Regions from separate parts of the Homo sapiens genome. Here region 1 is linked to region 2. The links come from fine-mapping of genetic effects on gene expression. A gene starts in region 2. The other region holds a variant in brackets. All regions are shown on one strand. Distances are from middle to middle.

Region 1 (2,904 bases), 100 kb after region 2:
GCTAATTCATTCTGTTCTGTTGACTTTGGCTTCTGCCCTGCCTTTGAAGGGTTTGAGGCCAGGGAGTGATGCACTCAGACTGGTGTTTCCACACAGTCACTTCAGACTTCCAGGGCAGTACAGGAGATAGATCCCAGGGCCAGTGAAGAAGCAGAGCACAAGTCCAGGCAGGAGAGGCTAAGGGCCTCCCTGAACAGGTGTGAGGCACAGAAGCCCCGAGAGGTAGGGATGACAGGATGAAGATGGGTCCTGTGCTGCTAGAAGTACCTGCAAAGCACAGAGGTGGCACAGAAAAGGAGTCCTTGGCTGGGATGGGAGGAGATGACATGTGACATGTGAAAGAGGACCTGGAGTTGGCTCGATGCTCCCAAAAGGGAAAGGTGCCGAGGGGAGCTAGCAGCCATGCAAAGGCAGAGACATGCAGGCAGTCTGGGCCATGAGGAGCTCTGGAAGTGACTCGATATGTCCAGAATAGGCCACTCCAGGGAAGGGCTGAGGAAGGATGAAGTTGGAGAGGGGCACAGACCAGATGCAGAAGGGCCTCAGAGGCCAGGATGAGGGTTTGGACTCCTTCCTGGAGGCAGCAGCAGTGGGAAAAGAGTTAAAAGCTGGTTTGTAAAGTGGAGCCATGTTGCTCGCTGGTCCAGGCAATTCCCCCGAAAGTTCATGTTTCCCTACAAAACCCGAGAGAGCTACTAGTAGGCGTGAAGTTCGTGGCCCTGGTCTGAGGATTTCCTGTTTCCTTGTCAGGTATGGAGGAATTTCCATTGGAGGAAAGCTCCCAGTCGTCCCCATCACGGGGGAAGCACTTGTTGGGTTTTTAAGCGACCTTGGCCGGATCATGAATGTGAGCGGGGTATGTAAACAGACTGGAGATTTGAGTAGGATTTTTGACTTGCTTAACTACCATGAATGAGAAACTCTCATGAGTGATAACAGGAAAAAAAAATTAAAACCGTCTTGTTTGTTTGTTTACATGGTTTTTAGGGCCCTATCACTAGAGAGGCCTCTAAAGAAATACCTGATTTCCTTAAACATCTAGAAACTGAAGACAACATTAAGGTACTTGACCTATGTATAATCTGCTCTGGAGCTAAAAATTTACCTGAGCTGGTTATTTTATTTTTACTTTCCTACCTTCATTAAATTCCATCCCTCCTCCTGCTGAAATCTAGCAAGGAATGTCTTCCAGCTACCAAACCCTTCCTGCTTCTCAAATTTCCTTTCCTTCACTGATTTCTGCTTTAACTAGCTGTTAGTGCAGCGTCTCAGATGTCCTCTCCACCCTCTAGGTGTGGTTTAATAACAAAGGCTGGCATGCCCTGGTCAGCTTTCTCAATGTGGCCCACAACGCCATCTTACGGGCCAGCCTGCCTAAGGACAGGAGCCCCGAGGAGTATGGAATCACCGTCATTAGCCAACCCCTGAACCTGACCAAGGAGCAGCTCTCAGAGATTACAGTGTAAGCCACCACAGCCCCAGCCTCACCACTTTCTTGTCACCTTCTCCACTCTTTGAACATCCTGAGAGGATTCTCACCACCGCGAAGTGCTGATTTGGATGGTAATGCTGTTTAGTCAGGCACATATGAACATCCGACTTTCAAATAAGTGCCTCACACTTCACATACCAGACCTCTTGGTCATTCTTTCTCCCCAACATTTATGTGG[C/A]AAGTAAGTTTACATTTGGTTCCATTCCCTTTTGGCTTTTGATAGCAAGTTGCTCCTGGAGCTTATACAATTATTATCTTTGCTATGTGCAAAGCAGCTGCCAGGAACTGGCAAAGTTCAGTAAACCTTTCAGCTCCCTCGGAGTAATTATCTTAGATTCCAGGAATTTCCTCAGAAGAGCATACTTTGGAGATGTCGACAGAGCTTTGCTACCCTCAAGCTGAGGCTCTTCTTGCACAGTTTCAGCCAGTGGAGACAGTGGCCTTGTGCGTTTTGTAGTATGTTCACTCTATTTGAGGCCTACATGGAGGAGGGGTTGGTAGGAGCACCTTTGTTAGTGCAAACTTCAGCAACGTTGTGGGGTCCTGATTTTACTATCCTAGCACACGCTGAGTGCCAGTGAACATGCCCAGGGTCATCCACTAAAACCTGGGCCTTGGCTCCTTGGTGTCTTCCTCTGGACACCCTAGGGCCCTAGACTGTCCTCTGTTAATTCTCACTCAGCCACACTTTCGTGTGTCTCCTTCCAGTCATTTGTTCTAAGCTTACTACGTGTATGGATGATATGATCTGTAGTTTTATCAAGGTAGTGACTACCACATAGGATACCTTTGTGGAAATTAGTAAAAATGCTCTTTTCTGCAGGTGGACACTGTCCCATGCCAGGGGTTATGGCTTGTACATAAAGTTCAGGCTGGCTTTAGCCCCAACTTACCCCTCAGCCAGATGCCTTCTATTTGTCCGAGGAAAGAATAAATAGAGCCAAGTCCCTGTACAACTTGCCTGCCCTCTTTTCACTTAAATTTACATCATGAACATTTCCTTGTGTTACGATGTACTTCTTGAAAATGTGATTTAACAAGATGATTATTAACAAAAGATAAATCTCACAGACCGTATGTCTGTCAACATAGAAAATTCAAGAGACTCTATAGACAGATTATTAGAGCTAATGAGAGCATTGCAGTACATAAGATTAATATAAACATCTATTTCTATACACCATAAAAATAATTAGAGAATATAATAAAAAGAAAGGTTGTCTAGAAATATTCACATGAAATAGAAAGGCAACCCGCAAATACCCATTTAACCTTGGTCCATATGGATTAAGACAGTTTAGTGGAGTGACAGCTTCAAGGTAGAGAAGAGGAACCTGGAGGCCACACCTGGGCGGGTGTAAGGCCTTCCCAAAGCCTGACTTTGTATCTTCTCCTCCTTCTGCTCTTCCCTC
Region 2 (2,912 bases):
CCATGTTTCACTTGTGGTTTTCCTGGGCAAGATAAGCTATTCCTCCCTGTCTTTGCAGAGTTTAAATGACTCACTTGTTCAAGTACCCACCGTTGCCATGTGGGACCGTGAGCAAAGTACTTAATCTCACTAAGCTTCACGTTCCTCATCTGTAAAACAGCAAATATGGACCTCACAAAATTGTAGTGAGGCTAAAATGAAATAACATATGCAAAAGCAGTTTATAAATAATAAACTTACTATAAAATATTATTTTGTAATTCTGCAAGCTTGTCTTAAATGCCATCACCTCCAAGGAGCCTTTTTGCCATCATAAGCAGAAACTATCTCTCTCTTCTTGGAAGCTCCACCATGCACAGCCTATGGGCCCTCATCACACTCCTTGAGTTATTCGAGTTCAAGTCCCGTGTTTACAACCAGACCGCAAACTCTATGAAGTCAGCATCCATTCCTCTCTGTGGTTCTCCCTCCGCCCCATCCAGGTCTCAAGGGTCTAGAGTCTTTCAAAGAGAACACATTCTGAGATTTGAGGAGGCAGAGACAAAAAGTTCCACTGCGAAGTGCCAGGGAGGCTTCTGTTTGGGGTGTCCCTTGGGATCACAGATCCCCCACCTGGTGATGAGTCAACCCAGCACCACCCCATTGCAGGGCTGGAATGACAGTAATGGGCCCACCTGCTGCCTCTCCTCATACCCGCACCCCAGTCAGACATTGCAAGTCAGTCACGGCTCTGTCCTGCTGGGCCTGGAGTGTTCCAGTGCCTTTTCCATCACAGCACCAAGCAGCCACTACTAGTCGATCAATTTCAGCACAAGAGATAAACATCATTACCCTCTGCTAAGCTCAGAGATAACCCAACTAGCTGACCATAATGACTTCAGTCATTACGGAGCAAGATAAAAGACTAAAAGAGGGAGGGATCACTTCAGATCTGCCGAGTGAGTCGATTGGACTTAAAGGGCCAGTCAAACCCTGACTGCCGGCTCATGGCAGGCTCTTGCCGAGGACAAATGCCCAGCCTATATTTATGCAAAGAGATTTTGTTCCAAACTTAAGGTCAAAGATACCTAAAGACATCCCCCTCAGGAACCCCTCTCATGGAGGAGAGTGCCTGAGGGTCTTGGTTTCCCATTGCATCCCCCACCTCAATTTCCCTGGTGCCCAGCCACTTGTGTCTTTAGGGTTCTCTTTCTCTCCATAAAAGGGAGCCAACACAGTGTCGGCCTCCTCTCCCCAACTAAGGGCTTATGTGTAATTAAAAGGGATTATGCTTTGAAGGGGAAAAGTAGCCTTTAATCACCAGGAGAAGGACACAGCGTCCGGAGCCAGAGGCGCTCTTAACGGCGTTTATGTCCTTTGCTGTCTGAGGGGCCTCAGCTCTGACCAATCTGGTCTTCGTGTGGTCATTAGCATGGGCTTCGTGAGACAGATACAGCTTTTGCTCTGGAAGAACTGGACCCTGCGGAAAAGGCAAAAGGTAACAGTTACTGTCTGTGGTTTAAAAATGAGGTGTGGAGCAAATAAACAGGTTGGAAGTGTGGGGTGGGGTGGTGGGGTAGGGTGGTGGGGCAGGGTGGGGGGTTGTGAGCAGTCAGTGGGCTTGTCGCCGATTAGCACTGAAGCAGTGTTTAGCTGGACGGCCTTTCTGTGGGCCCCTCTGACAGTGCCCTTCCCAGGAAGATGTGTTTCTCTGTCCTCAGCCACATGAAAATCTTTTGCCTACCGTGCCTGTCAATCCATTGCCTGCCCGCCCCTCCCCCACCCCCCGTTTTACACCTGCCTGTCCAGTCTACCGCTCTCTAGGGCATCCACGCTGAGCAGTGGGAAGAACTTTAAGCCCTGAAGAGCAGGCCAAAGGCAAGCAAGAACCCCCTCGAACAGCTTCCCAGCTTAGTGAGGCCTTATTTCATTGATTCTCTGAGGCACATTGTTTTTTCACATGTTAGCATTTCTGAAATTGGGATGCAGCTCACGATCAAGTCACAGTTTAACTGGACACATTATTTTTCTTTCTTAGTGGTGCAGAAAAGTAACAGTGTGTCTTACAATTGACTGCGTCCTAGATTCTGTGAGATGCAATACGTTATTAACCATCACGCACATTTCCTGAACTCTTTCAATGAGCAGACACCAGCCTGGGTTAGACTGGAGCCCTAAAAGCACGACACAGATTCCACCCTGGACTGGCTTCTGTTCTGCCTGGGAAAACCCAAAGTACGTTTGGAGACCAAGAGCAACATAAAGTAGCATAGGTGGAATAGTCCATGAGAAGTGCGAGCAAAAGGTGCCGGAGATCAGAGAACACCAAGACTGTACTTGTAAATGACAACTGGCTTTGTGCAATTTTTTCTGGGAAAGGATAAGGAGTGACTATAGAACTGTAAAGAAAGAATGCACTTTGCTACAGCCTTGCAGAGTTGTGCAAATGCCGATGACTAAAGGAGCTGAAAGAGGAAGGAGGGGATAAGGGATGGGGGCTGGGTAGGGGTGAGATTAGGACCCTGGGAGCTGCAAGCCACTGGAGAGATCAGGAGGAAAGGGAGGGAGACCTGCTTTAGGCGAGAAGAGAACAGTATTTGTTCCAAATCTCGGTTCAGAATAAGTTCATGTAGGTGATGGGGCCAACTGGAACAGGTGAAGGCCTATGAATGAGTGTCTCAGTTAGGGTCTCCTTAGAGTTTAATATGAAAAGGTGTTAGCTAAGTACAGAGCTGGTACCTGAGAGAGTAAAAGGAAACTCTAAGGTATCATGGAGGTAGCAATTGCAGGACACAGCTCCCACCCCTAGGGCTGAGAGAACCAAGGGAAGAGACAGGAATTATTAAGACTTGGAGCATAGATGAGAGGTCTGTGGAGCTGACATTAGGACTTGGGAGGAAGGCGTGCATGGAGGCTGCTGCTGGATCTCTGAA

The links. PIP is the estimated chance that this variant, and not a neighbour inherited with it, causes the effect.
Region 1: its variant is fine-mapped to the expression of ABCA4 in nasal epithelium (TOPMed, PIP 0.96).

Annotation. Positions count from the first base shown.
Region 1 is chr1:94,019,798-94,022,701 of GRCh38, reverse strand. It overlaps ABCA4 (ATP binding cassette subfamily A member 4), which reads left to right. Exons shown (of 50, transcript NM_000350.3): 33 at 751-856; 34 at 988-1,062; 35 at 1,293-1,462. Among named protein-coding and RNA genes, the nearest start is that of ABCA4, 100 kb to the left of the region's middle. RefSeq lists an enhancer at 757-1,956. The variant C/A (reference allele first, on the strand shown) is at 1,671.
Region 2 is chr1:94,119,545-94,122,456 of GRCh38, reverse strand. ABCA4 (ATP binding cassette subfamily A member 4) reads left to right here and starts at 1,309. Exons shown (of 50, transcript NM_000350.3): 1 at 1,309-1,477. The coding sequence starts at 1,412.